Homo sapiens: one gene and its partners. The protein of the gene in region 6 purifies or fractionates together with the protein of the main gene of each other region. This does not show direct contact. Each region holds a gene or a part of one and is shown on either strand. Other genes may lie near its edges.

The links.
Region 1: the proteins of SLC18A2 (region 6) and SLC25A24 purify together in Homo sapiens (co-immunoprecipitation; 2 studies listed by BioGRID and IntAct, with this or other methods). This does not show direct contact.
Region 2: the proteins of SLC18A2 (region 6) and APOOL purify together in Homo sapiens (affinity purification with mass spectrometry; one large-scale study listed by BioGRID and IntAct). This does not show direct contact.
Region 3: the proteins of SLC18A2 (region 6) and DNAAF5 purify together in Homo sapiens (co-immunoprecipitation; 2 studies listed by BioGRID and IntAct, with this or other methods). This does not show direct contact.
Region 4: the proteins of SLC18A2 (region 6) and MFSD8 purify together in Homo sapiens (affinity purification with mass spectrometry; one large-scale study listed by BioGRID and IntAct). This does not show direct contact.
Region 5: the proteins of SLC18A2 (region 6) and HACD2 purify together in Homo sapiens (affinity purification with mass spectrometry; one large-scale study listed by BioGRID and IntAct). This does not show direct contact.
Region 7: the proteins of SLC18A2 (region 6) and MTFP1 purify together in Homo sapiens (co-immunoprecipitation; 2 studies listed by BioGRID and IntAct, with this or other methods). This does not show direct contact.

Annotation. Positions count from the first base shown.
Region 1 is NC_000001.11:108,144,476-108,148,626, forward strand, and holds part of SLC25A24 (mitochondrial adenyl nucleotide antiporter SLC25A24), read right to left. Parts: intron 3,912-4,151; coding exon 3,804-3,911; intron 1-3,803. UniProt on the Homo sapiens protein: Electroneutral antiporter that mediates the transport of adenyl nucleotides through the inner mitochondrial membrane. Originally identified as an ATP-magnesium/inorganic phosphate antiporter, it also acts as a broad specificity adenyl nucleotide antiporter.
Region 2 is NC_000023.11:85,090,453-85,094,042, reverse strand, and holds the end of APOOL (MICOS complex subunit MIC27 precursor), read right to left. Parts: 3' UTR 1,653-3,590; coding exon of another isoform or gene 1,482-1,652; 3' UTR 859-1,481; coding exon of another isoform or gene 818-858; 3' UTR 728-817; downstream 1-727. Other genes in the region: SATL1 (spermidine/spermine N(1)-acetyltransferase-like protein 1), read left to right, coding at 818-858, 1,482-1,652. UniProt on the Homo sapiens protein: Component of the MICOS complex, a large protein complex of the mitochondrial inner membrane that plays crucial roles in the maintenance of crista junctions, inner membrane architecture, and formation of contact sites to the outer membrane.
Region 3 is NC_000007.14:750,377-754,527, reverse strand, and holds part of DNAAF5 (dynein axonemal assembly factor 5), read right to left. Parts: intron 1-4,151. UniProt on the Homo sapiens protein: Cytoplasmic protein involved in the delivery of the dynein machinery to the motile cilium.
Region 4 is NC_000004.12:127,944,500-127,948,650, reverse strand, and holds part of MFSD8 (major facilitator superfamily domain-containing protein 8), read left to right. Parts: intron 1-4,151. UniProt on the Homo sapiens protein: Outward-rectifying chloride channel involved in endolysosomal chloride homeostasis, membrane fusion and function. Conducts chloride currents up to hundreds of picoamperes.
Region 5 is NC_000003.12:123,494,069-123,498,219, forward strand, and holds part of HACD2 (very-long-chain (3R)-3-hydroxyacyl-CoA dehydratase 2), read right to left. Parts: exon of another isoform or gene 903-4,151; coding exon 820-902; 3' UTR 1-819. UniProt on the Homo sapiens protein: Catalyzes the third of the very long-chain fatty acids (VLCFA) elongation four-step cycle (condensation, reduction, dehydration, and reduction).
Region 6 is NC_000010.11:117,250,676-117,254,826, reverse strand, and holds part of SLC18A2 (synaptic vesicular amine transporter), read right to left. Parts: intron 1,429-4,151; coding exon 1,370-1,428; intron 780-1,369; coding exon 696-779; intron 423-695; coding exon 330-422; intron 1-329. UniProt on the Homo sapiens protein: Electrogenic antiporter that exchanges one cationic monoamine with two intravesicular protons across the membrane of secretory and synaptic vesicles.
Region 7 is NC_000022.11:30,424,231-30,428,891, reverse strand, and holds the start of MTFP1 (mitochondrial fission process protein 1), read right to left. Parts: upstream 3,125-4,661; 5' UTR 3,013-3,124; coding exon 2,946-3,012; intron 2,176-2,945; coding exon 2,048-2,175; intron 1,722-2,047; coding exon 1,489-1,721; intron 431-1,488; coding exon 358-430; coding exon of another isoform or gene 218-357; 3' UTR 1-217. UniProt on the Homo sapiens protein: Involved in the mitochondrial division probably by regulating membrane fission. Loss-of-function induces the release of cytochrome c, which activates the caspase cascade and leads to apoptosis.

The DNA of each region.
Region 1 (4,151 bases), on a different chromosome or scaffold from region 6:
AACGTGCAGGTTTGTTACATAGGTATACACGTGCCATGGTGGTTTGCTGCACCCATCAACCTGTCACCTACATTAGGTATTTCTTCTAATGCTATTCCTCCCCTAGCCCCTCATCCCCAAAAAGGCCCCAGTGTGTGATGTTCCCCTCCCTGTGTCCATGTATTCTCATTGTTCAACTCCAACTTATGAGTGAGAACATGTGGTGTTTGGTTTTCTGTTCCTGTGTTAGGTTGCTGAGAATGATGGCTTCCAGCTTCATCCATGTCCCTACAAAGGACATGAACTCATCCTTGTTTATGGCTGCATAGTATTCCATGGTGTATATGTGCCATATTTTGTTTATCTAGTCTATCACTGATGGGCATTTGGGTTGGTTCCAAGTCTTTGCTATTGTGAACAGTGCTGCAATAAATATACGTGTGCATGTGTCTTTATAGTAGAAAAATCTATAATCCTTTGAGTATATAACCAGTAATGGGATTGCTGGGTCAAACGGTATTTCTGGTTCTAGATCCTTGAGGAATTGCCACACTGTCTTCCACAATGCTTGAACTAATTTACACTCCCACCAACAGTGTAAAAGCATTCCTATTTCTCCACATATTTGCCAGCATCTGTTGTTTCCTGACTTTTTAACTAACTGGCGTGAGATGGTATGCCATTGTGGTTTTGATTTGCATTTCTCTAACAACCAGGGATGATGAGCCTTTTCTCACGTTTGTTGGCTGCATAAATGTCTTCTTATGAGAAGTGTCTGTTCATATCCGTCACCCACTTTTTGGTGGGTTTTTTTTTCTTGTAAATTTGCTTAAGTTCCTTATAGATTCTGGATATTAGCCCTTTGTCAGATGGATAGATTGCAAAATTTTTCTCCCATTCTGTAGGTTGCCGGTTCACTCTGATGATAGTTTCTTTTGCTGTGCAGAAGATCTTTAGTTTAATTAGATCCCATTTGTCAATTTTGGCTTTTGTTGCCATTGCTTTTGTGATTCAGTCATGAAGTCTTTGTCCATGCCTGTGTCCTGAATGGTATTGCCTCGGTTTTTTTCTAGGGATTTTATAGTTTAAGTCTATGTTTAAGACTTTAATCTATCTTGAGTTAATTTTTTTTTTATAAGGTGTAAGGAAGGGGTCCAGTTTCAGTTTTCTGCATATGGCTAGCCAGTTTTCCCAACACCATACATTAAATAAGGAATCCTTTCCCCATTGCTTGTTTTTGTCAAAGATCAGATGGTTGTAGACGTGTGGTGTTATTTCTGAGGCCTCTGTTCTGTTCCATTGGTCTATATATCTGTTTGGTACCAGTACCATGCTGTTTTGGTTACTGTAGCCTTGTAGTATGTTTGAAGTCAGGTAGCGTGATGCCTCCAGCTTCGTTCATTTTGCTTAGGATTGTCTTGGCTATACAGGCTCTTTTTTAGTTTCATATGAAATTTAAGGTAGTTTTTTCTATTTCTGTGAAGAAATTCAATGTTAGCTTGATGGGGATATCATTGAATCTATAAATTACTTTGGGCAGTATGGCCACTGATTCTTCCTATGATATGATATTGATTCTTCCTATCCATGAGCATGAAATGTTTTTCCATTTGTTTGTGTCCTCTCTTATTTCCTTGAGGAGTGGTTTGTAGTTCTCCTTGAACAGGTCCTTCACATCCCTTGTAAGTTGTATTCCGAGGTATTTTATTCTCTTTGTAGCAATTGTGGATGGGAGTTCACTCGTGATTTGGCTCTCTGTTTGTGTATTATTGGTTAATAGGAATGCTAGTGATTTTTGCACATTGATTTTGTACCCTGAGACTTTGCTTTAAGTTGCTTATCAGCTTAAGGAGATTTGGGGCTGAGACAAGGAGGTTTTCTAAATATACAATCATGTCAACTGCAAACAGAGACAATTTGACTTCCTCTTTTCCTATCTGAATACGCTTTATTTCTTTCTCCTGCCTGATTGCCTTGGCCAGAACTTCCAATACTACGTTGAATAGGAGTGCTGACAGAGGACATCCTTGTCTTGTGCCGGTTTTCAAAGGGAATGCTTCCAGCTTTTGCCCATTCAGTATGATATTGGCTGTGGGTTTGTCATAAACAGCTCTTATTATTTTGTTATACATTCCATCAATAACTAGTTTAGTGAGAGTTTTTAACATGAAGTGGTGTTGAATTTTATCGAAGGCCTTTTCTGCATCTATTGAGATAATCATGCGGTTTTTGTCACTGGTTCTGTTTATTGATGAATTCCGTTATATTGATTTGCATATGTTGAACAGCCTTGCATCCCAGGGATGAAGCCAACTTGATCATGGTGGATAAACTTTTGGATGTCCTGCTGCATTCAGTTTGCCAGTATTTTATTGAGGATTTTCACATTGATGTTCATCAGGGATATTGGCCTGAAATTTTCTATTTTGGTTGTGTCTCTGCCAGGTTTTAGTATCAGAATGATGCTGCCCTCATAAAATGAGTTAGGGAGGAATCTCTCTTTTTCTATTGTTTGAATAATTTCAGAAGGAATGGCATCAGCTCCTCTTTGTACCTCTGGTAGAATTCGGCTATGAATCTGTCTGGTCCTGGGTTTTTTTTGGTTGGTAGGCTATTAATTACTGCCTCAATTTCAGAACATGTTATTGGTCTATACAGGGATTCAGCTTCTTCCTGATTTAGTCTTGGGAGCGTGTATGTGTCCAGGAATTTATCCATTTCTTCTAGATTTTCTAGTTTATTTGCATAGAGGTGTTTATAGTATTCCCTGATGGTAGTTTGCATTTCTGTGGGATTGGTGGTGATATCCCCTTTATCATTTTTTATTGTGTCTATTTGATTCTCCTCTGTTTTCTTCTTTATTATTCTGGCTAGTTGTCTATTTTGTTAAACTTTTCATAAAAACAGCTCCTGGATTCAATGATTTTTGGAAGGGTTTTTCGTGTCTCTATCTCCTTCAGTTCTGCTCTGACCTTAGCTACTTCTTGTCTTCCGCTATCTTTTGAATTTGTTTGCTCTTGCTTCTCTAGTTCTTTTAATTGTGATCTTAGGGTGTCGATTTTAGATCTTTCTCACTTTTTCCTGTGTTGCCCACTTTTTAAAAATGTAAAAGGCATTCTTAGGTCAAGGGCTGTATGAAACAGTCCGTAGGTCTGTGTTTTGCCAACCTATGCACTAATGAAAGGATGTCTAATTAGGATAATCACCATATAATCAAATCCTGAGATTCCATTATTAAATTTATGGTACAGAAACTCTTTGGACAGGAATGGCAGCCAGCCTCTAAAGTGGCAGCCAGCCTCTAAAGTGACCCCCAGTGATATTTGTCTCCGGTTATTAACACCATTATACCAGCCCCTCCTACACTCTACCAGGGTTGGTCTGTGTGATCAATGGAATACAGCAGAAGAGGCAAAAGATACCAGCTTTCATCTTAGGCACTCTCTCTCTCTCTCTCTGTTGGACCACTGACTCTAGGGAAGCCAGCTACTGTGTTTTGAGGATACTCAGGCAGCCTACAGAAAGGCTCACGTGATAAGGAACTGATGTTTCCAGCCAATAGCCAGTGAGGCCTGGCAGCAACATGAGTGAGCTTGGAATCCGCCTCCAGCTGATTCCAAGCTCTGACTACCATCTTGACTGTGGGCTGTGAAAAACCCTGAGCCAGAGGCACCCAGCTAAGCTGCTTCCAGATTCCTGACCCAGAGAAACTGTGCGATGATAAATGCTTGTTTTAAACTGTTAATTTTGGGATAACTTGTTAGAGAGCAATAGACAACCAACACGAACACCATCACACAGTCAGACTTGACAATGGTACTCACCTCCATTGGATATATAAAAGTCTGTGCAGTTGCTCCAGCCATGGAACCAGAAATAAATCTCTCAAATGTTCCTATTTTTTGTCCTTCTTCAGTAAGTAACTTCTTGTACTGTATAAACAAGTTTTAAAATGCACATTACTACCTGCTGTGGACTGAGCTGCACCCCCACCAAATTCATATGTTGAAGCTGTAACCTCCCATGTGATGGTATTAGGAGATGAGGCTTCTGGAGGTAATTAGGGTTATGAGGTCATGAGGATGGAGCCCTCATGACAGGATCAGTGTTCTTGTAAGAGCAGACACCAGAGAGCCCACTCTCTCTCTCCCCCTTCACATGTGCACCAAGAA
Region 2 (3,590 bases), on a different chromosome or scaffold from region 6:
ACGGTGTTTTAGTTAATGTAACTTATTGCTACTTAATGAGTTTGATCACTATCCTAATGAGTTTGATCTAATCTGTGATTGTGAAGACTCAGTCACAGATTAGAAAAACATTTTATTAGTTCCTCTCAAGGTTTGAATAAGCCAAGCTATCACATGGCTATATATTTTTTTATTTTGTTTTTGAGACAGGGTTTTCTGTCACCCAGGCTAGAATGCAGTGGTGTGATCACGACTCATTGTAACCTCAACCTCCTACACTCAAGCAATCCTCCCACCTCAGCCTCCCAAGTAGCTGGGGCTACAGGCATGTGCCACAGCACCCAGCTAATTCTTTATTTTTTGGAGAAACAGGGTCTGTGTTGCCCAGGCTGGTCTCAAACTCCTGGGCTCAAGTGATCCTCCTGCCTTGGCCTCCCAAAGTGCTGGGATTACAGGTGTGAGCCATCGTGCCATCACATGTGTGAGCCATCGTGTGAGTATAGGCCACACAGCTATACTTTTATCTTTAAAAAATGCTTTCACATTTTAGGTGGTTTTCAGTAAAAACAGCTAAGAAATATACCGTTATAAGACAATAGTGGCAGAGACTCACTTCTTCACTGATCTTTAAAATAAACCCAAACTCTTCTATGACCTTTGGTACGTCATTCCAATTAGGAAAAAGGGATATGAAAGCATTCACGAGTTGTGTTTCCAGAAGCTATTAATAATATACAAAAAACAGATACAGAGTTTTAGATATTATTTATTTTAAACTAAAGCAAATAACAAGTTAAGTGAAATTTGCAGTTTTCACTTTGCATTGTCTATTTAAAAGGCCTAGGTATTGGAGCTGAAATGCTGAAGAGGCTAAGTCAGGTATGTATTACAATTAGTATTGATATTCTATACATTAACCTTTTCTTAATAAATATTCACAGGGCATAAATTAAATCATTAATCTCACCATTTGAACATAACCCCAACATATACTTCAAATTTCTACCCAAATTAAACTGGATTTTCAAATCAGATGATCATATACAGTATATGAATTATAGTCAATTAAAATTGATTTATATATAATCCACAACCACACTATACACCCTTTTTGCTATCAAGGGAAAGTAAGAAGGAGGGAGATTAGAAAGCATTTTTATTCAAAAACACAGGCTCACAGTATGAATATTACAAGACTATAAAAGCAAGATCTTCTTGTATTTTGGAAACATATGAGAACATGTGTTCTTTTAGGTACACCTTTTCTGTATGATAAAGGCTTTGCAAATCAGTTTTGAGATTTTAAAGAGGGCTTTAAAGCTCAGAACAGTGAGACTTTTTTCTTTTTACAGCTATAGAAAAGTTCAAAAGGTAACTACTATATTTGGAAGTATTATTCACACATAGTGTCTTGCATAGAGTAGACCTTCAATAAAATATATGTGTTAACGAAGATTATACTTTCAAATGAAAGTAATATTTGCTTGTTTGTTTTTAAACAGATAGCCATCACAACTCAATGTAACTGCATGCACTTTCTTGTCGTCATTTGGAACCAGGCTTCTATCAACTACTATACTAGTCGAGGGGCTTTAGACCTTTCCTCTGAGGAGGGCTGGCATCTCTTCAGGTTTAACAGAGAAGAACTCCTGGACATGGCATGGGAAGAATGAAAGAGGCTTTGTAACAACTCATCCCAACACAGCCTCCAACATTTGACTGTCACCTGAGTCTAACAGCAGTTTGACTTTGTTGTACAATACAGCAAGTGATCATCACATTCTTGTTTGAGCAGATCTTTTATTTTGAAACAGATTTTGTAGCTCTAGTCAACTTTCCATTATCCAAACCAATATTCTAACGGCTAGTAGCAGTAGTGATAATCCAAAAGAGCAGATAATTTAAAAGTCACTTATACTTAGCTTTGCGCTATTTTTTACCTATCATATTTCATCAAAATTAAGGTGCTTTTCACAATTTGACATATCTGATGTCGGGATAAATGTAATGATCAACTGGCAGCATTTTTTGTTTGTTTGTTTTTAGAGGCAGGATCTTGCTATGTTGCTCAGGCTGGTCTCAAACTTTTGGCCTCAAGCAATCCTCCCACTTCAGCCTCCCAGACATAAGCAACTCTGCTCAGCATTTTTTTTTAAATTAAAGGTATATGATATGCCTTAGATTTGATGAAATATGGGTGTTTGAATATATTCAGATCTGAGGTTTAAAAAAATTCATTTCAAATACTGGAGATAAATTCTGAAGAGCTTACTTATGAAAAACTAGCAAGTAAACTGCTTCCCTACCTTGAGCAGCTTAAGTACCACTGCCTCCTTGACATCATCCCAGTACTACATTCTATCTCTGAACATCCATAGCTCTTTGGTTGTACTTATCTTAGGGAAGATACCACATACAACACTATATTTCTATGTTTCTCTCTTTCCTAGTAGAGTATAAGTCCTTTGAAATAATTCTAACTTTTGTGTCCTGTGCTGCAACCAGCATAGCAGAACGTGTGAGTTCCTACTACCTACCAGGCACTTCATGGGCATAGAAACTACACAAAAATTATTCAGTGATATCCACAAGGAACCTTGTCTGTGAGAAAATATTAATTACATAAATTGTGTAAAGTACCATATCTGTAAATACCAGCTATCACTTGCTAGTTTTTCATAAGTAAGCTCCTCAGAATTTATCTCCAGGATTTGAAATGAATTTTTTAAAACCTTGGATCAGATCTCAAACACACTCATATTTCATCAAATCTAAGACATATTATATACCTTTATTTTTTATTATTTATTTTTTGAGACTGAGTTTTGTTCTTGTGCCCAGGCTGAAGTGCAATGGCACGATCTCGGCTCACTGCAGCCTCCACCTCCCGGATTCAAGTGATTCTCCTGCCTCAGCCTCCCAAGTAGCTGGAATTACAGGCATGAGCCACCACGCCTAGCTAATTTTGCACTTTTTGCGTGTTTTTAGTAGAGACAGGGTTTCACTATGTTGGTCAGGCTGGTCTCAAACTCCTGACCTCAGGTGATTCACCCACCTTGGCCTCCCAAAGTGCTGGGATTATAGGTGTGAGCCACCATACCCGGCCATACCAAATACCTTCATTTTTTTAAAAAAGGCTGAGCACAGTCACTCATGTCTGGTTGGCTGAGGTGGGAGGATCGCTTGAGGCCATGAGTTTGAGACCAGCCTGGGCAACATAGCAATACCTATCTCTAAAAGACAGAACATCTAAATTCTACCCTGGAGGATTGAGAAAGGGAACATGACACTGGAATTGGACTTGTAGGATGGGTAGAAGTTAGAATGTAGAGCAGGATAAGATGGAAGAACATTCTAAGAGGACACACTAGCACAGGCAGAGAAAGAGGCAATAATGAGCAAAGCATGTTCAAGAAACAAATGGTATGTCATAAAGACAATATAATACACATTAGCAGTAGGGTGGGTAAGGAGAGGGAAGATAGGATTAGAAGGTAAGCTGGAATCAGATATGAAGGGCCTTGTATATCAGACTAAGGAGTTTTGATTCTGCAGGCAATGATGAGCCACTAAAGATTTCAGAAAGACAGCTATTCATTATAGTTGTCAAG
Region 3 (4,151 bases), on a different chromosome or scaffold from region 6:
TACCGCACATCACATTTAAGGGACACCTGTGAGTTTCAACCTCACCATTTCAAAACAAGTCTTGGGGTGGACGCAAAGCTGACAAATGCCCCGTCGTTCAGAACATTCACAGAGGCGGTGCACGGCTGCAGTCCTAGCCCTGTGGAGGCCAAGGCAGGTGGATCACTAGAGCCCAGGAAGTCAAGACCAGCCTGGGCAACATGGCAAAGACCCCATCTCTATAAAAAACAGGAAGATTAGCCAGGTGCCGTGGTGCATGCCTGTGGTCCCAGCTACGCAGGAGTCTGAGGTGGGAGGATTGCGCCACAGCACTCCAGCCTGGGTGACAGAGCGAGACCCTGTCTCAAAAAACAAACATTTAGAGCCACACAGAGATGCAAACAACACACTTGCCACACGTGCTGACGTGTATGATCAGAGAGACACGCCTGCGAAGCCGTCCCCCTATGATCAGAGAGACACACGCCTGCGAAGCCATCGCCATATGATGAGAGACACGCCTGCGAAGCCGTCCCCCTATGATCAGAGAGACACACGCCTGCGAAGCCATCGCCATATGATGAGAGAGACACGCCTGCGAAGCCGTCCCCATATGATCAGAGAGACACACGCCTGCGAAGCCATCGCCATATGATGAGAGAGAGACGCCTGCGAAGCCGTCGCCATATGATCAGAGAGACACGCCTGCGAAGCCATCCCCATATGATGAGAGAGACACGCCTGCGAAGCCATCGCCATATGATGAGAGAGACACGCCTGCGAAGCCGTCGCCATATGATCAGAGAGACACGCCTGCGAAGCCGTCCCCATATGAGAGAGACACGCCTGCGAAGCCGTCCCCATATGATCAGAGAGACAAGCCTGCGAAGCCATCGCCATATGATGACAGAGATACGCCTGTGAAGCCGTCCCCATATGATGAGAGACACGTCTGTGAAGCCGTCCCCATATGATCAGAGAGACATGCCTTCGAAGCCATCGCCATATGAGAGACACGGCTGCGAAGCCATCGGCATGGTGGGGGTGACAGCTGCGTCCTTCGCCCGGCTTCCTCTGCTCCTCTGCACTGCAGCCCCCAAGGCACCCCGGCACCCCTGGATCTGTCCCGTGACTGAGCTGCACTTTCTAGAGCCTGACACAAGTGGAAGCCTCTCGTTCACTCTCCTCCCTTCTCCGCTTCTTTCACTCTGCATCGTTTTCTGAGGCCCGCCTGTGCCCGCTCCTTTCTGAACCTGGGAAGTGGCCTGTTCTGGGGAGATGCCAGTTTAGTGCCCGCTCCTCTGTGGAGAAGCATTCAAATGGTGTCCAGGGCAAGTCTGTGTGGCCTGGGCTTTCACTGTGCCGGGACAAATACCAGCTGTGGAAGGGCTGGGCCACAGGGAAGGTGCACGTTTAACTGTTTTAGAAACTGTCCAACCATTTTCCAAAGTGTTTGAGCCAGTCCGCGCTCCTTCCCACTCTCAGCGGCACGCGGTACGCTCAGTCTTGAATTGAAAGCAGTCCGAGAGGCACAGTGGCATTTCCGTGTGCTTTTCCTTTGCATTCCCCGATGACTAACGACGCCGAGCGTCTTCTTCACAGGCTTGTTTGCCGCCTATCTTCCCTGGTAAAGGGTCTTTCCAAATTGTTTTCTGCCCATTTAAAAAAATGGATTGTTTTCCTGCTGAGTTTCAAGAGCTCTTCCTATACTCTGGAGATAAATCCTTACATACATCATCTCCAAACATCTCAGTCTTTGGTTTGTCTTTTCGTTTTTTCAACAGGCCTTTGAAAAAGCAGAAGTGTTCATTTTGATGAAGTCCACACATTGCTTTACCCTGTTACAGAGCGGTCTTTTGAGGACGCACCCAGGGAAGCGTGGCCCGGCCCACGGTCACGAAGCCTTCGTCCTAGCTCTGCGGTCTTTTGAGGATGCACCCAGGGAAGCGTGGCCTGGCCCGCGGTCACGAAGGCTTCGTCGTCACTCTGCAGTCTTTTGAGGATGCACCCAGGGAAGCGTGGCCCGGCCCGCGGTGACAAAGGCTTCGTCATCACTCTGTGGTCTTTTGAGGACGTATCCCGCGAAGTGTGGCCCGGCCCGTGGTCACGAAGGCTTCGTCGTCACTCTGCAGTCTTTTGAGGATGCACCCAGGGAAGCGTGGCCCGGCCCGCGGTGACAAAGGCTTCGTCATCACTCTGCGGTCTTTTGAGGACGTATCCCACGAAGTGTGGCCCGGCCCACTGTCACAAAGGCTTCGCCCTAGCTCTGCGGTTCTGGGCTTTACCTTCAGATCCCTGACGCATCTGGGGTTAATTTTTTGACTCCAAGTTCACTTTCTGGTGTATGAGTGATCCTATCATTTACAGTATCCTTATTAAAAGATGCCATTAAATGGTCTTTGAGCCTTCATCAAGTCAGTGGTCCGCGTGCGGGCGCCTGTTTCTGGACGCTCTCGTTCTGCTCATCGGTCTGAAAGCCAACACCACGTGGCCCCATGACTGTGGTTTTGTGAGTCTTGCACCCAGGACCTGCTGCCATTCAGCTTCACTCCTCCCCAGTGTTTCGGCAGCTGTGGGTCCTTTGCACGCCCACGAGAATTTCACAATCAGTTTGTCGATTTCTACAGAAAAGCCTTCAGGGACTTTGATGAAAAGATTCTGATCTTCAAAATTCAGGCCGGGCACGGTGGCTCATGCCTGTAATCCCAGCACTTTGCGAGGCCAAGGCAGGCGGGTCACCTGAGGTCAGGAGTTCAAGACCACCCTGACTAACATGGTGAAACCCCGTCTCTACTAAAAATAGAAAAAATAAGCCGGTCGTGCTGGCGAGCGCCTGTAATCCCAGCTACTCAGAGGCTGAGGCAGCAGAATCACTTGAACCCAGGAGGTGGGGGTTGCAGTGAGCCAAGATTACACCACTGCACTCCAGCCTGGGCGACAGAGTGAGACTCCATCTCAAAAAAAAAAAAAAAAAAAAATTCAGAACAACTGTAAAGATAGAAATGAAACCATGATATGTCAGGATTTAAAGGGTCTTTTTCTATTTTTAGAGAAAGGGTCTCACTCTGTCACCCAGGCTGGAGTGCAGTGGTACGATCACAGCTCACTGCAGCACTGACCTTCTGGGCTTAAGTAACCCTCCTGCCTCGGCCTCTCAAAGTGCTAAGATTACAGGTGTGAGCCACTGCATCCAGGCTAAAGGGTATGTTTTAATAAGAACAGCTTGTACCAGGACACCCCATTTTTAACCTTTTTCTGGTTATTTTTCTGTTTTTATCCTGTATTATGGAATTAGTTCCAAATAATTAAAATTCTGCTGGCTGTTTAAATGATCCTGTCATCATTTTGTAAAAAACAAAAAAGCCAGGGTGCAAACACACCTCTCTTCGTTTTTTTTTGAAATGCAGTCTCGCTCTGTCATCCAGGCTGGAGTGCAATGGTGCGATCTCAGCTCACTGCAACCTTCACCTCCTGAGTTCAGGCAATTCTCCATTCTCATGTCTCAGCCTCCTGAGTAGCTGGTACTACAGGTGCATGCCACCACACCTGGCTAAGTTTTGTATTTTTAGTAGAGATGGGGTTTCACCATGTTGGCCAGCCTGGTCTTGAACTCTTGACCTCAGTATTACAGGCATGCGCCACCACGCCCAGCTGCACCTTTCTTCCTGATGACGATCCGCTCTGGAAAGTTTGCAAAATGAGAGATGCGTGACCAGGAACAGCCGGGGAGGGGTCTGCTGACAGCTGAACAGAGCTTTGTGGGCACCTGGGCTTCTGGGTGTTTCCAAAGAAATACTGGCCGGTGCTGGGCAGGGGTACGCAAGGCCTGGACACAGGCTGGGACTGGTTTAAGGCCTGTTAGGAACTGGGCCCCACAGCAGGAGGTGAGCAGATGGTGAAGGAGTGTGACCGCCTGAGCTCCACCTCCTGTCAGATCAGTGGCGGCATGAGATTCTCAGGGGAGGGCAAACCCTCCTGTGAACTGTGCGTGTGAGGGACCTGGGTTACGTGCTCCTTATGAGAATTGAATGCCTCATGATCTGAGGTAGAACAATTTCAACCTGAAACCACCCTGCTCCCTGCCCCACCCATGGAAAAATTGTCTTCCACAAAACCAGTCCCTGGTGCCAAAATGGCAGGGGACCGCTGGTACAGTCAAGCGTTGCTGAACG
Region 4 (4,151 bases), on a different chromosome or scaffold from region 6:
TAGTTGGCAGATCTGTGTCTGTACAGGTCTGCAGCAACCTCAATTCTTGCCTCCTGAAAGAAATAATTCAAGTAAAGGACATAATGCAGAAGGAGAAACTGAGGCAAGTTGTAGAGCAGGAGTTAAAATTTATTAAAAAGCTTTAGAGCAAGAATGAAAGGAAGGAAAAGAAGGAAAGTACACTTGGAAGAGGGCCAAGTGGGCAACTTGAAAGACAAGCCTGCGGTTTGACCTTTTGACTTGGGATTTCATACACTGGCATAATTTTGGGGTCTTGCATTACTTCTCCCCACTCACCCCACCCCTGAGATCGTATCAGGAAGCTGCTAATTACCAGGTGTTTTCTATTTATTAGGAGGCTGCCTTTTCCTAGCACTAGCTGTGACCAATAATTACTTTAGAGAGCGTTAACAACCGCCTGACCATCACCTAACAGTCTCTCCACACTCCCCATGTGAGGGGCAGGGGAGACCTCTCCTGCCCTGTTCATACCCAACTAGCTACCTAATGTAACACAGTCACTTCTTAAAGGTCCTACCTTTCAATATTTTAATAATATTAATTTAAATATTAATTTCCAAAAAATGAAATTTGGGGGACACATTCAAACCATGGCACCACCTCTTAGCTTCTGTGACATTTCTCTATCCTGGCTTTCCTCTTAACTCTAATGACTTATTCTTAAATTCTTTTGTGTATTCTTCCTTATCAGTTTATCCCTTGTTGGTTTTTCTATGAGGTTGGAGAGAGAGTGTGTGTGTGTGTGTGTGTGTGTGTGTGTGTGTGTTCACACGTGCATATGTGTGTTTTATCCTAGATTCTGAACTTTGTCCCATATTAGATGTATAGCCAACAATTTATTAGATAAATCCATGGTACTTGGATGAACCCAGGCTCCTCAGGTCTTTACACATTTGTCTCCCTTTTTACTGGAATGCTTTTCCTCTCTCCATCTTTCTTTTGCTCTCCCCTTTCTCCTTCCTCACTGTCTTTTATTCACTCTTCAAGGTTTTGCTCCAGTGTCACCTCCTCTGGAAAGCCTTCTCTCTCTCTCTGTTTTTTTTTTTTTTTTTGCAATGGAGTCTTGCTCTGTTGCCCTGGCTGGCATGCAGTGGCGTGATCTTGGTGCGCTGCAATCTCTGCCTTAAGGGTTCAAGCGATTCTCCTGCCTCAGTCTCCCAAGTAGCTGGGACTACAGACGCCAGCTACCACACCCGGCTAATTTTTGTATTTTTAGTAGAGACGGGGTTTCACCATACCGGCCAGGCTGATCTCTACCTGACCTCAGGTGGTCCACCCACCTCGGCCTCCCAAAGTGCTGGGATTTCCACCTCCTGGGTTCAAGCGATTCACATGCCTCAGCCTTCCAAGTAGCTGGGATTACAGGCACCCGCCACCATTCCTGGCTAATTTTTATAATTTTAGTAGAAGTGGGTTTTCGGCATGTTGGCTAGGCTGATCTCGAACGCCTGACCTCAGGTGATCCTGCCTCAGCCTCCCCAGTTGCTGGGGTTACAGATGTGAGCCACTGCACCTGGCCTGGAAAGGCTTCTCTCACTGTCCCTCACAACAATTTGGGTCAGAAGCTTTTCCTGTATACTCCCGTTTCCCTTTATCATTAGCCCTTAATATGGAGTGTCCTAACACTGTATTTACAGAGAGTTTACTTAACTCCCCTACTAGATTGTCTAGATTGTTAGGATTGTTTTTTTTTTTAATTTTTGTGGTTTTTTTTGTAAATGGAGTCTCGCTCTGTCACCCAGGCTCGAGGTCAGTGATGCAATCTTGGCTCACTGCAGCCTCCACCTCCAAGGTTCAAGTGATTCTCCTGCCTCAGCCTCCCAAGTAGCTGGGATTACAGTCGTGCACCACCACGCCCAGCTAATTTTTGTATTTTTAGTAGAGACAGGGTTTCACTGTGTTGACCAGGCTGGTCTCAAACTCCTGACCTTGGGTGACCCACCACCTCAGCCTCTCAAAGTGCTGGCATTACAAGTGTGAGCCACCATGCCCAGCCCAGTTTTTACGAATTTCTACTTTTTGAAAATGCTCTCCTAAAATATATTTTTAAAGGAATATAAGAAGAAAAGAAATACAAATTTTACTTTTTACTGGTTTAGTGCCATATTTTCATTGCTATTTTGAAAATAATATTACATGAAATTATTACCCATTACACTAAAAATTCTTTCCATGCTGGTAGTCATTGGAATTGGCACAATTCTGGAGCAACGTCTTCTCTACTAAAAAGATATTTTCATGTATCAAAATTCTTAATTTCTTGGCATTTAGTCTTTTTAGTCAAAATTCTCAAAAGAAGGATATTAGTAGTGATTAGGTCTACTCAGCATACTATGTTGAGTTTTGAAAAGTACTCTCTTTTCTCCAGATATTTTGAAAACTCTTTAAAGAGTCTTGCTATCAGGCCCAGTGCTGTGACTCACGTGCCTGTAATCCCAGCGCTTTGGGAGGCCAAGTTGGGAGGATTGCTTGAGCCCAAGAGTTCAAGACCAGCCTGGGTAACGATATAAGACCTCGTCTCTACAAAAAAATTTAAAAAGTTATCTGGGTATGGTGGTGCTACTCCCTGTAGTCCCAGCTGCTTGGGAGCCTGAGTTGGGAGGATTTCTTGAGCAAAGGAGTTTGAGGTTACAGTGAGCCAAGATTATGCCACTGTATTCTGGCCTGGGTGACAGAGCCAGACCCTGTCTCAGAAAAAAAAAAAAAAAAAAGTTTTGCTTTCAAACCACTACACATTTAACATTAAAATTGAGTTTTCATTGCTTTTTTGAAAATTAAAATTTTATGTAACATGAAATTATTATTTTCTATTTTAGTAGAGATGACAAATGAAGCTAAAGGTAATACAGGAAGAAAATGAAAACCAGAGTACCTAAAATGAAAGATATTTTAACGGCTAGAACTTTAAATATTATGTATCATTATACTTTTGCATATTATTTCTTATTTTTTTCATAAAGAAAAACGCACCTAAATATTTTCACTTTAAATATCTTTAGGGAATTACCAGGCACGGTGGCTCACACCAACAATCCCAGCACTTTGGGAGGCCAAGGCAGGCAGCTCACCTGAGGTCAGGAGTTAAGAGATCAGCCTGGCCAACATGGTGAAACCGCGTCGCTACTAAAAAAAATATAAAAATTAGCTGTGCCCACGTGGTGGCACATGCCTGTAATCTCAGCTACTTGGGAGGCTGAGGCAGGAGAATCGCTTGAACCTGGGAGGTAGAGGTTGTAGTGACCTGAGATCGCACCATTGCACCCCAGCCTGGGCAACAAGATCAAAACTCCGTCTCAAAAGTAAATAAATAAATAAAATAAAATAAATAAATAAATATCTTTAGGGAACAAAAGGTCATAGTTTTCCTTATTAAATTGTTCTACCACTTATCTATATTTGTTTAAATTTATTTCCTAAAATTTAATAAAAGCCATTAAATAGGAAGATTAGAGATAGAATCTTCCTATGTTGCCCAGACTGGAGTGCAGTGGCTTTTCACAGGTACAGTCATAGTGTGTTACAGCCTCCAACTCCTGGGCTCAAGGGATCCTTCTACTCTAGACTGCTGAGTAGCTGAGATTACAGGCATGGGCCACTTCGCCTGGCTTAGCCTACCACATATGAAAAAAAGTAATCTGGCTGAGTGCGGTGGCTCATGCCACTAATCCCAATATTTTGGGAGGCCAAGGTGGGAGAATTCCTCCCTCCCGCGGCAGGAGGATTGCTTTGAGAGTTGGAGGCGGGAAGTTCAAGACCAGCCTGGGCAACATAGGGAGACCCTGTCTCTACAAAAATAAAAAAATTAGGTGGGCATGGTGGTGCATACCTGTAGTCCTGGCTACTCAAGAGGCTGAGGCAGGAGGATCACTTGGGCCTCAAAGGTCGAGGCTGCACTGAGCCGTGATCGGACCACTGCGCTCCAGCCTGGATGTCAGAGTGAGACCCTGTCTCAAAAAAAAAATAAAAATAAAAATAAACAATAGTGCCTTTTCTAAGCTAACATTTTCTATTTTTCTGAAAGTATTTTATTTTCTGAGTTGTAGTCATTTGGTTCTCCCCTTAAGTTCATCATGATATGTAAACCCTTTTAAAGTGGTAGAATACTGAGTGGTCTATATAGAACGGAAGAA
Region 5 (4,151 bases), on a different chromosome or scaffold from region 6:
CAGAGGTGTTCTGAGAATGGTGCTGTGAAAAGGACTTGTCACTTTTGAGCTATTGAGCTCCCCCTTTCTGAGACCTGTCATTTTGTTAAGACATGATTGAGGCTGAGCTCCAGATAAGATATATTCTTTACGGTACACACATACTTATTAGATTCAAGCACGTTTCTTAGTGGCAGGCAGTAATGACTCAATTGGAAACAAACAAAAGGGTTCTAAGTTGTTTTCTGATTACAGGCACTACCCCGAAGCTTCATAGACATATACATTTTATAATTCATTCATTAGATGTGAGGGGATAGGTCCCAGCCATAACTTCAGAGCATTCCAGAGAACAGAGTTTGCCGCTTCAAAAATACAAAGTTTCCAGCATGCAGTCAAGCACTTTGACAAGGGAATGCTAAACACACTGCAGACTGAAACATAACTATACTGCAAGCTGGGCTATTCAGCTGGTACGACTTCATTATTCAGACTGTAACTCTCAAGTACTTAGTGTTACAGGTCTTCATTGATCAGATACATGAAGGACACAGAAGGACATAAAATGCCAAATCCCTTTCTAGTGCCATCATAAATATTAAGAACTTCTGGTTGAAAGAGCATGCTGAAATGAACTGGCCAGGGTGTTTTATGTAACAACCTTTTTCTAAAATAAAATCTCAGGCCCATGTGACACTGGATTTTTGTTTTAGTTTTGTTTGAATATTTTAAAAATAGTTCTTACTTATTTTCTATGAAACGTATTGGGAACTCAAAAAATCTGCAGCATTTTTTGATCATTGAAAAGTTTGTTTTGGTGGGAGGTGCAGAAAGCAGGAACTATTCAAATTTCTTGTGTTCTTCAGTATGAGAAAGGATCTTTCTTCTCTGGTGTATCATGTGGAAGTATAACTGGGGAAAAACTGAAAAGAAAAGAAAAATTGGTTAAGAGGATGGTTTAAAATTGCATATGCTCTATTTAAAGCATATGAAGTTGAGGTCCTCTCTGACCCTCTGACTAATTTCTCATCCAGCAACCAAGGAAGGTAACAAAGTGGGCTTGGGGAAAGGAAGAAAAAACACAGAGAGACTTACCTCCTTTCTTTTCCTGCTTTAGCTGAGGGAAGAAGTGGTGTGGAATACAATGACAGACACTATTGTCACTATCATGACCTATATCGATGCCACAGAACAGCCAAATAATATTCTGTACGCTCATTCATGTATTATCTCCACATTTATTCTGATTAACTTCACAACAACCAGGTGAAGAATTCTAGTGATGAAGTTATTATTCCTATTTCAAAGAGGAAGAATTTGAGCCCCAGAGAGGGTAAGCAACTTGCCTAGGGTCTCACAGTAAGCCACAGACAGAGTTGGGACCAGGCTCTTGGCTCCTGACCCTCAGCCTAGCCCCATATGGTCCCAGGGCAGGTGATTCTTTGGGAAGAGCAACCTCTCTTGGGAAGTAGTTTCGGGTAAAGACTTGAGGAGGAGGAGGAATGCCACAACATTTGCTTTGAACACAACTAAGCCAGGTTTGGATGTTAAAAAAAAAAAAAAAAGGCCTTATGAAAAGCAAGCCAGTGTCTTAGGCACTGGGGATTCTTCTGTTCTTGGTCATTTTGTAGAATACTTTAGAAAGCACTGGTTCTCAAATGAATGGGATAGTACTGCCTCCCTCGGAACTATTTGGAACTATTTCGATAGTTTGACTATTTGGAAATAAGGGAGAAAGGGAAAGGTTACTGGCATTTGGCATATGAGACCAGGGATGCTAAAACATGCCATAATGCATGACAGTACCCACTACTAAGAAGTATCCCACCCAAAATGCCTATAGTGTCCCTGCTAGGAAATACCACTTTGAGCCACCTGGCCTTCACAAGGTTACTGTGTGTAAACAACTCCAGGTAAAATGCTCTTTGTTGTACAATATCCTTCCTCTCCTCATCTCTCCAACAGCTCCAATCTCTATTTTATTGTTATTATTTTTTTAGACAGAGTCTTACTTTGTCACCCAGGCTGGTATGCAGTGGTGTGATCTTGGCTCATGGTCTGGACCTCCTGGGCTCAGTCAATCCTCCCCACTCAGCCTCCTGAGTAGCTGGGACTACAGGTGCACACCACTTCACACCCAACTAATTTGAATTTTTTGTAGAGATGAGATCTCCTACGTTGCCCAGGCTTGTCTGGAACCCCTGGGGTCAAGGGGTGTGCCCGCCTCAGCCTCCCAAAGTGCTAGGACTATAGGCATGAGCTACCAAGCCCAGCCCAGTCTCTCTTTTTTATACTGTCACGAATATTTTTTGGAAGATAATTTCTACTACTCCCAACTCTCTCCTGACAAGTTTCTTCCTTTTTAAATGGGTTCCAAGCTGGCCAGATTTCAAATGATCCTCCCAAAGTACGCCGGGACACCAGTGCGTGTGTGACAAAGATCTGCTAACCTGCAGAGGAGGCAGCACGTGGAACAGGGCTGCCATCCACGCCATTGCTACTGCCAGGCAGGACGTCGTTCACAGAAAAGACCCCACTTAAGCATATAATTCGACAGGCAGAGAACTATTTTGGCACGAAAGCCAGAAAATCTGACAAGCTCTATAATCTAAAAACTGGAAGTAAAGATATAATTAAACCATTAGGAATGTTAATGGTAATCATTTAAAAATGTGGGGCCAGTCCCATTTCTATAGATTTACTGTAATGAAGGGAATCTGTGAGCTGGGCATGCACAAGACCTTCCCACTGGTTGCATTTGTGTTCACACAACCCCATAGTGGGTGGCTGCAGTCTCACAGCTGGTTCAGAGGGCCCGGGGAAGGAGAATGACCTGGAAGTCATGCATTAAGCCCTTGGTGGCAGTTCAAGGAAGAAGATGGCCACGCAGACCTTCATTTCCATGGGCAGGGCCTGCCACCTATCAGAAGGGTCAGATGATGGCACTTTCACTCCTTTACATCTCCCAGAGATTCCTCAGTACCCAGAGAAAGGAATGTGGATGGGAGGCCAAGGGCCTAGGGTGTCTGGCCTATTCTCCACAGTTCAGGCAGTGGCTTCTGGCTGACCAGAACTATGATTCTGTCTCCATCTGAATCACCTACATGTTCAGACTGAACCCGACCATGAGACTGAAAGCTTTTCAGATGCACGGCTGCCACTTTTAACAACATGAGCTACACTGAGGAATAGCACTGAAAAAACCCCTCAACCCGACAACAGGCTATTGAGAATTCCACCTTCTGCTGTCCCAATTCAGGGAACACAGAATGGGGACACTGCTGGGCACGTGTGTGTGACAGTCCCTGTGTGTTGGGGACGAGGGGGGTGTGGGTGCTGCTGGGCCCTCCTTTCTTTAAGAAGATGGCCAGCCCTCTTGGGGCTCTCTTCCCCTCTGGGGAGAGAACTGTGGAGGACGACAGCACCAGATATGCTCTCTGCCTGGGCCAAGTCTCCTTGGTTTCTCTAAAAATCAGAGGTGTGGTTACAGTCACTGACAACCTGGAAAGCGCCAGCTTCTCCAGGTCCTCACCCCTCATCAATGTATCTTGCCCTTTTTTGGCTCCCTCCACCATAACCAATTTTCACCAATTTGGGGGTGGAATGTAAACAGGCCTTAGACATCTACTGAGTCCTGCAGGGACTGTGTTGTACTAATCCTGTATATATTGCAACTACAGCAGAACAGGAGAGGAGCACCTGGCCAGGGCACCCCAATATGAGGAAACTCCTGGGGTCAAGCCTCATGAGCCACAATTTAGGCTATGTGTGCAACAACGCAACAACAGATGAGGCCCATGAAAAGGAGGTGTTACTTTATATAATACATGTGTATCATCAACTTGCCACTAAAGATTAAAAGAACGCTACCTTGTTTAGAAAGAAAACCAAATTTGGTAAAGGAGACTGCATGTCAACAGCAACCTCTCCTAATTCTGCATTTTCTTCTGATAAATACAAAGCTTTGGAAAGTTGGAAATGTGCAGCTGGCCAGAATGAACTGTACACTCTGGCCTCAACAGTAACAACCTGAACCACTGAGAACATCCAGAGCTGCTGGCTCAGGCCACAGCACAGTGAGGCCAGCAGGCACCAGGGTGACTCGCATCAGGAGAGGTAGTCTGTGTGCCATCTTGAACCTGGGTGAGGAGTCAATGGTTTGCAGGGAATCT
Region 6 (4,151 bases):
GACCCAGAAAGCAAGGTTCTCCGTGATCACAACTCACTGAATGTTCCCGAGGAAAGGGTCTGGCAGACCATCCTGTTCAACCTTTGGTTTTCCATCTGGGCCCAGGGAGGTTTGGGGCAGAGGCAGGGGAAGTCCTGATCCCCTCCACCCCCAGCTCAGGGCTCTTCCTACCATTTTTCAAAGTCTCCATGAAAGCAGGAAAGGAAAAAAATAAAAAGGGGACCTCTGTGTCAGTGCAAACTGCGCCAGGGTCACTGGGCGAGGACTGCCGCTGTCCAGCACCAGGCAGGCCCCTCTTGCCAGTTTGCCTACACGGGGGCCTTACCCACCTAAGACCCCCATGGCCAGGCCTCCCAAGGCGATTCCCATGACGTTGCCTCTCTCTTCATCATCTGTGTAGACACTGGCAAGCATGCCCATCCCTACACAGGGAAAGAAATAGTCAACAGGCCAGCTCCGGGGAACAGCAAAAGAATAATGCGTGACTCGCCTTCCCTCTCCAGCCAGCCTTGTGATCTTCCCAAACCTGTCAGATTCACTAAAATGTAAGACCAAGCAGAACCCAAGAGGAAAGTGGGTGCCTTCTCCAAGAATCCCCAGCACCCCAACCACCACCAATACCTGAATTCCCTGAATGAGTCCAGCTCACTCTGCAAGGGGCCCCTCACGAACTCACTCAGGCATTCCACACCTACCAGCCACAGAGGAGCAGGACGAGCCGATGCCCTGCAGCGACCTGGCAATCAGCAGGAAGGCATAGCTGCTGGAGAAGGCAAACACTGCCGAGAGAGGGGGTCCAAGACCGCACATCAGTGCTGCTGGGACACAACCGTCCCAAACAGGAACGTTTCAGAAGCCCCCCTTAACCCAGTGGAGCATTTGCATGTTAGCCACCCTGTGCTTTTGTTCCGTAAAAAGCTATCAATTCCTTTCTGCAATTGTTGCCAATACACAAACCTCCCAGGCCATATACTTTTTTTTGAGATGGAGTCTTGCTCTGTCGCCCAGGCTGCAGTGCAGTGGTGCAATCTCGGCTTACTGCAACCTCCGTCTTCCAGGTTCAAGTGATTCTCCTGCCTCAGCCTCCCCAGTAGCTGGGACTATAGGTGCATGCCACCACACCTGGCTACCTTTTGTATTTTTAGTAGAGACGGGGTTTTGCCATGTTGGCCAGGTTGGTCTCGGACTCCTGACCTCAGATGATCCGCCCACCTCAGCCTCCCAAAGTGCTCGGATTACAGGCATGAGCCAACCACGACCCCCCCCGCCCCCCCGCCGTCCTTAGGTTGTATTGTTAATTCCCGGCTCATGGGCATCAATGCCCACCCTGATGAGACCCACACTCAGAAGGAAAACACCACACACTTACTAATTGTTGAGACAAACATGATGCAGAATCCCGCAAATATGGGAATTGGATAGCCAATTCTGCAAAACACAAACATCAGACAAATCTGGTGACTGCAGGCTATTTTTTTAAGGCTTTATATTGATTTTCGCCTGGCTACCCTTTGGGATCAGACAGATAAGTGTTTGGTGGACTTTTCTGAAAATTCATATACTCAGTGCTTCCTATGTGACCTTTTTGTGTTTGACTGTCTTGGAACGTGAATACATTTATGGACTGCCACTGTGAACAGAAATTTGTTTGGAATAAATGTTAACACAATATTGGCAAGTAACCCAGAACACATCCAAAATACACGGCCCCTATTTCTGTCATTTTTAAAAAATGATTCCTTTAATTATAGTCTTTGCTAAAGCTCTCCCAAAGGAGCCACTGCAATCAAATGATTCGGGTAAAAGGCCATCAAGTGATTCCACTGGCAGACTGCAGTATGTCTAAGAGGCATTAGGAAGCAAGATGTTAAGATCTGCCTTCCTGTTGACCCCATGAGGCCAACCCAGAAAGACAAAGTCTCATTTTCTGTGCAAAATTTCAAAATCCAAATTGCTCCGTGAGACCACTGCTCACCTAGGACTCTGGCGCCAGGTCAACAGGGCTGGTGGAAAGACCCTGGCATTCCCCTATGCCATGTCTGGCTGGACACATGACCCTGCCACTTAATCTAGGGAGGTCTCCTCTCAGTCCCTCGGAGAGACCACCGCCCACCTCCCAGGACTGGAGTACAGAAAGAGATATGGATGTTAAACTGTTAACACCAGTGCCTAGAGCATAGAAGGTGCCTAAGAAATGTCATCTCCTCCCTCATTCTCTTTCTTCTTTGTCCTCTGTTTCTGCTGGATTAAGTAGACAGCTGGGTCCCTGCTCTGTGGGTGGGGCATGAGGGTACAGGCAGCTTCCCAGCCCCTCTGCCTTGAGAGGAAGCCAACAGTGGCTGAGCTCTTGCCCAATTGAAGGTTTGCTCCAACCCAGAAGAGCCTGAAACATCTCTAAGTCTCTTCTGTCTCTAGCTCTGGACCCTCAGGAACCTGGAGAGGAATGAAATGAATCCAGGAAGGCAGAAGGGCCAAGCATCCTGAGCTCTGGCAACAGCCTGGAAGGGTTCTTCCATTCCAGGCTTTAATAAAAAATTGTAATCGGCTGAGCATGATGGCTCATGCCTGTAATCCTGGCACTTTGGGAGGCCGAGGTGGGCGGATCACCTGAGCTCAGGAGTTCAAGACCAGCCTGGGCAACATGGCAAAACCCTGTCTGTACTAAAAAAAAAAAAAAAAAAAAAAAAAAAAATACAAAAAATGAGTCAGGCATAGTAGTGCACACCTGTAATCCCAACTACTTGGGAGGCTGAGGCACGAGAATTGCTTAAACCTAGAAGGCAGAGGATGTAGTGCGCTGAGATCATGCCACTGCACTCCAGCCTGGGTGACAGAGCGAGATTCTGTCTCAAAAGTAAATAAATAAATAAAAAATAATCATAGCGCCTTCATTTAAAGTTTACACTCAGTTCTCCAAGCATTTACACCCACCAGATTTAGTCATGATTTAATAAGGGCCCTATTTCACCTCCCTATGTTACAGATGAGGAAACTGAGGCATGATATCTGTCATTACTTATCAGATGTCATCAGACTAATTTCGCCTGGGCCATTCCCACATGGCTTTTCCTTGTAAATTTTACCACCTCCGCCAGTACCCAAACGGCATATATAGCTTTAAATAGAATCTTTCCAAAAGTTCTCTTGACCATATTCAAATATTTTTTAACTGCTTCACCTGTATCCAGAAACCAAATACCAAAAATACAGAGAGTAACTCACAAGCATGACAGATTCCCAGACAGTCAGTCCCCTCCCACAAACCATGCAAAGATTCCCCTGCTGTGAACAGAGATGAGCTTGTAATTCACAAAGTGGGGCCCCAAGCAAATTGGGTAAACCAGAGAAGATGCCAGGATTCTGACCTGCAGTTCAGATGGCCATCGGGTGACAGCTTCTTCTGTCTCAGCCCACCCAGAGCTGATTCTCTGTACCCCTTATTCATGTGGACAAAAGAAACCCAACACCGGGGGCTCACACGGCACTGCAGGATACTGAATCAGGAAACGTCCAGGAGGCTCAGAGAGGAGAACTCACAGGCAATTTATTTTCAGCAACTACAGTTTGTCCCATGAAAGAACGGGCATATGACAATCTTCCGGGCTGTCCTGGAATAAACACAGGCTTCTCCCTCTGTTCAATATATATTTGGAAAATCTAGTTGTTGAAGTACCAATACGTATCAAAGCTATTGGAATTAGGGGCTTCACTCTTGTTTCACCAGTTCTTCATTTTGGCTATTTATAAGGCTCTAATATGGAACCCTTCAGGCTGCAGGGACATCCCTGAAGGCAAATAAGACATCTGTGGCCCTTTCCCAGACTGTAGGCAGAAACACTGGGTGGTTTCAGGACAAAACTCAATAAAATGTGGCAACCCTTGTCTGTGGCCCCCAAACCACCAGCCATACTGTGCCCACTGTTCAGTCCAGCCAGTATTCCAGGTAACCCATCAGGGCACAGCTGTGGTGGGCTGGAAGCCACTGAGGTCCCTCCCTACCTGAAGACTCAGACATTCCCACGACTGTAGGCAGGGAACCAGCATGCTGGGTGGCCTGAGATTCCAAGGGAGGGTAGCTGGTTTTATCCATTTTTCAGAGGATCAACACTGAGGCTCGGGGAGGTGAATTACTTGCCCCAAATTCAAGGCTA
Region 7 (4,661 bases), on a different chromosome or scaffold from region 6:
GCCCAGCTTGCCAAGTGATCTTGGGCCTATTCCTTGCCCTCCCTGAGCCTCAGTCTCTCATCCTCCATGGGAGGATGTAATTTTCCTGAAAAAGACAGGGCCGGGCCCACCCAGGGTCCACTTCCACTCAGCATCTTGGATTCCAGGGAAGCAGACAGCGTTCAGGTCCTGCCCTTCTGTGACTCCCTGCAGCCACTGCTTCTTGAAGCCTTTGTCTCTAAGCTTCTGTCCAGCTCAAACCCACCCAGGTGCCAGGGTCTTTGGACACCAGGGAGCCAGGTGTCCACATTCCCTGGCAGGAGTAGGAGGTTGACATGAAGCAGGAGGCCGATGCACAGGCCAGGTACCAGAGTATGATCAGGAGGAGCTGGGCTTCCCCACTGTTGGGTAGAGCTTGCGCAGGCTGGAGTCCAGGAGGAAATCCACCGACCTGTAGGGAGTGGAAGGGTGGTGAGCAGGTGACCAAGGGTGTTCATGAGGGAACAGAAGGCAGAAGGCCAGGGTTAGGGAAAGGGGCGCTTAGATGCAGGATACAAATGCCATCCAGCCAGAGACCCACCCTTATCCTGATCCTTCCACCTTGGGCTACCTGGGGAAGCTAGAATCAAACTCCCAGAATAGAAGCCATCCTCTTCTTTATTCAGGAGGAAACTGAGGTACTGGGTAAAAGACTTGCTCAGGGCCTCAGGGTCAGCTATCTTCTCCTGGAGAAAGACTGCTCCTCTCACTCTTACATTGGTCTGGTTGGGTTGAGCCCATATCTAGTTCTAAGACCAAGCACGTGACCCAAGCCTGGCCAATCAGCAAAGGGAAACTGGCTCATAGGGTGGGCATGCAGTCCAGAATGGACCAATGACACCCTTCCTTGGGATTTTTGTTGTTACTGTTTAAAAGCTTCTGCTGGGGGAGGCTAAGCTGGTGGGATAGAACTTGGGAGCTGCTAGGGCCATTTCTACTCCCACAAGGAGAAAGCAGGTGAAGCCAGCAAGAAATAGGGTGGGGTGGGGAGAAAGGCAGCAGGATGGGGAGACCCAGACCCCTAATGACATAATTTGGGTACCTAGATCTAGCCATGCCTGAATGCAACACAGCCCTGGACTTTTACTCCATTTTATTCAAATATTCAGTTTGAGTTAGGCTTCTGTCACCAATACCTCCCAAAATGCATCCCCTCTAGGGTGCACCTGCTCCTGCTTCTCTCTGGTTGTTTTGTAACACTAGACTTTCTTTCTGGGAATTTACTTGTCCTGTGTCCCATACCCTCAACGCACCCCTCTTCTTTTATTGCTAAAGTGCCTGCCATACCATATGACAAGGGTACAGGCTGTCCTTTCTAACCCAGGAGCCAAGTGCCAGCCTTGTCCCTGCTATTGCTCCAGCAAAGTGGGCATACCCCACACTTCACAGAGTCTAGCTCTACCTGGAGACTGGATGATCCACTCTCATCACTGGAGAGTGGATGATCCCTGAGGCCAAGAAGGTACCCACCTGTCAATGGGGTGGATAATGATGGGGATGGTCAACAGCCCAAGCGCGGTGGTGGTCCACTTGCGGACAGCCAGGGGCCAGCGGGTGGCAGTGCCCAGGACATAGAGAGAGGCAGCACACACGCGGTTGATGGTGAAGCCCGGAATGGCCACAGAGGCTAGAGCCTGCCATACAAAGGTGTCCACCACAGCCACAGTCACCCTGGCGCTGCGGCCTGCTTCAGGGCTGGGCACCTGGTGGGCGCAGAGACACTTAATCCAGCTGGGGCAGAGGCAGAAAATCCTGCGACAAGGGGCACGAGGCTAGACCGGGAGGGGCAAGTGGCCAGTGGACTTGTCCGCACCCAGGAGTGGGGTACAGTCTGCCACATCCAGTTCGGGGAGTGGGAGTGTGGGGGCAGGGGTACACTGTCCTACAAACAGGACTGTCTATGGACTGCACTAGGCAAGGTTGTAGGGACTGGAGTGTCCCACAGGGACTTTATCACATGCAAGGCTGTGGACTGAACCACACAAGAAGAGAGCTAGGGTTGGGGGTTGGAAAATAGGCTAACACTCACCTCTCCAGCCTTCTTGCCTTTGTCAATGGCATCCGCCAGCACGTAGGAGCTGGCCACGCCATAGCTCAGCCACACCACCGCCGCTGGCACAAGAGAGCGGAAAGCCTCGCCCACCTCATTGGCATAGCCTGGGGGAGGGAACATTTAATTCCTAGGCTCGCAACTGTTCCACGAGGGGGCGTTGGAGCAGGCTGGTTCTCATCCTAGCCAGCTAAGCAGTCCCTGGGTGACCTTAGGCAAGTGACTTGACCTCTCTGAGCCTCCCTTTCCGAGATGTAAACTGGTGCCATGATGCCCACCTCGGACTCGGGCCACTGAGGGCGGACTGAGCACTGAGTCACTGTTACCATTGCTTATTGGTTAGATTTCCTGGTCTTGGTCCCAGGAGTAACTGCACTAATGAGGTGACAGGCACCCAGAGGGGCAGAGTGATCGAGGGCAGCGCCACTGACCAGACGCTCGCCAAGTGCCAGGGCTTTCTGCGCTTTATCCCATTCCACCCTCGCAACCACCACCCAATGAGAGAGGCCCTCGTGTGTATCTCGTTTGTTTTTTGTTTTGTTTTTGTTTTTTTGCCGAGGAGGAAACTGAGGTTCAGACAGAGCCAGTGCGTGTCAGGACCGAAATGGGAGTGGAGATCCCGACTCCACAGCCAGCCAGAGCGCATGCCAGAGCGGGCAGCCCGCTCACCCCATGGGAGCTTCCGCCCTGGGCGACCCACCAGGGTAGTGTGACCTTGGGCAAGTCCCTAGCCCTGTCTGAGCCCAGTCTCCGGCCCAAAAGCAGAATGAGAACTAAGATCATCCCGCCTCCTCCAGGCCCCGGGCGGGCGTCCGGCGACCCCTGCTTCTCCAGCCCAGTGGTGGTGGGGTCGCCGCGCCCGTCGCCCCGCGCTCACCCAGGTATCGCACCCACGTGTCCCGGTAGAGATCGCGCTCTGCGCCCCGCGGCTGCGGCTCTGACATGACTCTCCCGCCACGGCCCCGGCCACTACAGCCGGTACTGGCTCCACTGCAGTCTCCGCCGCCGGCACTTGGGTCTGCCCGGCCGGGACCCGCCGAAAGTCCCGCGCCGAAGGACAGGTCAGGAAATCTCCGCCAGCAGGGAGCGTCTGCAAATTCCCCCCGCGCACCGAAGCCCCTCTCCCAGGCTCGGGTTTTACAGACTGGTTTTCGTCACGTTTTCTCTGAGCTGTTGGCGCTAATCGCTCCCAGGACTGAGTGTAGGTTTTGGAGCCAAAGAGACAGGGGATCAAGTTGGGGGATGCTACACTGCAAAGCTTGTGACCTCGGGCTTATCCAGCATCTCTTTATTCATTTGTAAAAACGAGGGAGGGACACAGGCTGGGCCCGTTGGCTCACGCCTGTGATCCCAGCACTTTGGGAGGCCGGAGGCGGGAAGATCTCTTGAGCCCAAGGGTTCGAGAACAGCCTGGACAACATAGCGAGACCTCGTCTCTACTAAAAAAAAAAAAAAAAAATTAATGTAATAAATAAAATGGGGAACACAATAGTGTCCACTCCCTAGGATGGTTCCGAGGATTAATTATAACAGTCACCATTTATTGAGTTTATTGCCAGTCTACATGTTCGCTAAAGGACTCTCCATGTCTTACACCTGAAACCCTCCCACCAGCCTGGGAGCCCGTTTTACAGGTGAGAAAATGGAGGCACAGAGAAGGTGGGTCATTTTCCCAGAACACACAGCTGCTAAGTGGTGAAGTTGTGATTTGAATCCAAACAGTGTGGATCCAGATCCCGTGCTCTTAATGCGAGCTCTAAATGAGGCTAGAGGAGTGAACGGTGAGCCCCTGGGAGGTAGGTGCCTGGACTCTGGAGTCCCTTCTCAGCAGTCGCCATGTATAACTAGGAAGCACTCGCATTTAACTGGATCAGTATGTCCCCAGACTGAGCTTCTTGGGGACAGGATGTTGGATGAATTAATTAACGAATGAATGAATCGGGCAAGGGAGACAGAGTTGGGGTTAGTGATTACAACAGGAGGAAGCCTTCCCCCGCTGGACCTCAGTTCACCCAGGTGAGCAATGTGTGCACTTCACTAAGTCTCTGTGACTCCTTGGCGGGTATAATTGAGCGGCGTTGGAGACAATCCTGGGTTCAAATCCTAGCTGTGCCGCCTACTGGCTGTTAGCCTCCCTGAGCCCCAGTTCCCACGTCTGCAAAAAAAATGAGAGTAGCCAACATTGACGAGCACTTACTTATACCAAGCTCTTAAGCGCTTTGCACGGCTTATTTCCTTTAATCTTTGCAACAACCCAAAGTGTAATAGTAAGCACAGGGTTTTTGCGTGATACCCGGTAGGCCTTATTAAGAATTAGCTCTTATTTTCATCAAAGGTAGAGAAAATGAGTAACTATTGAGGCCCCCGCTGGCTCCCTACGGAGGCCCCCGCTTTCAGCCCTAGGCGCCTCTGTCTTGTAGGGCTGTATAGGACAGTCCGGTCAGCAGTTACCTCAAGCTGAGCTGGGCTTGTAGGTTGGGGAGGGTGGTGGGTGGGAGAAAAGTTGATGGGGAACGCAGCGGTTCCCACCCCCTGAAACACCGGCAATGCTGGCGTGGAATTATTAGACAGTCCCTAAAACCACGTGATCGCT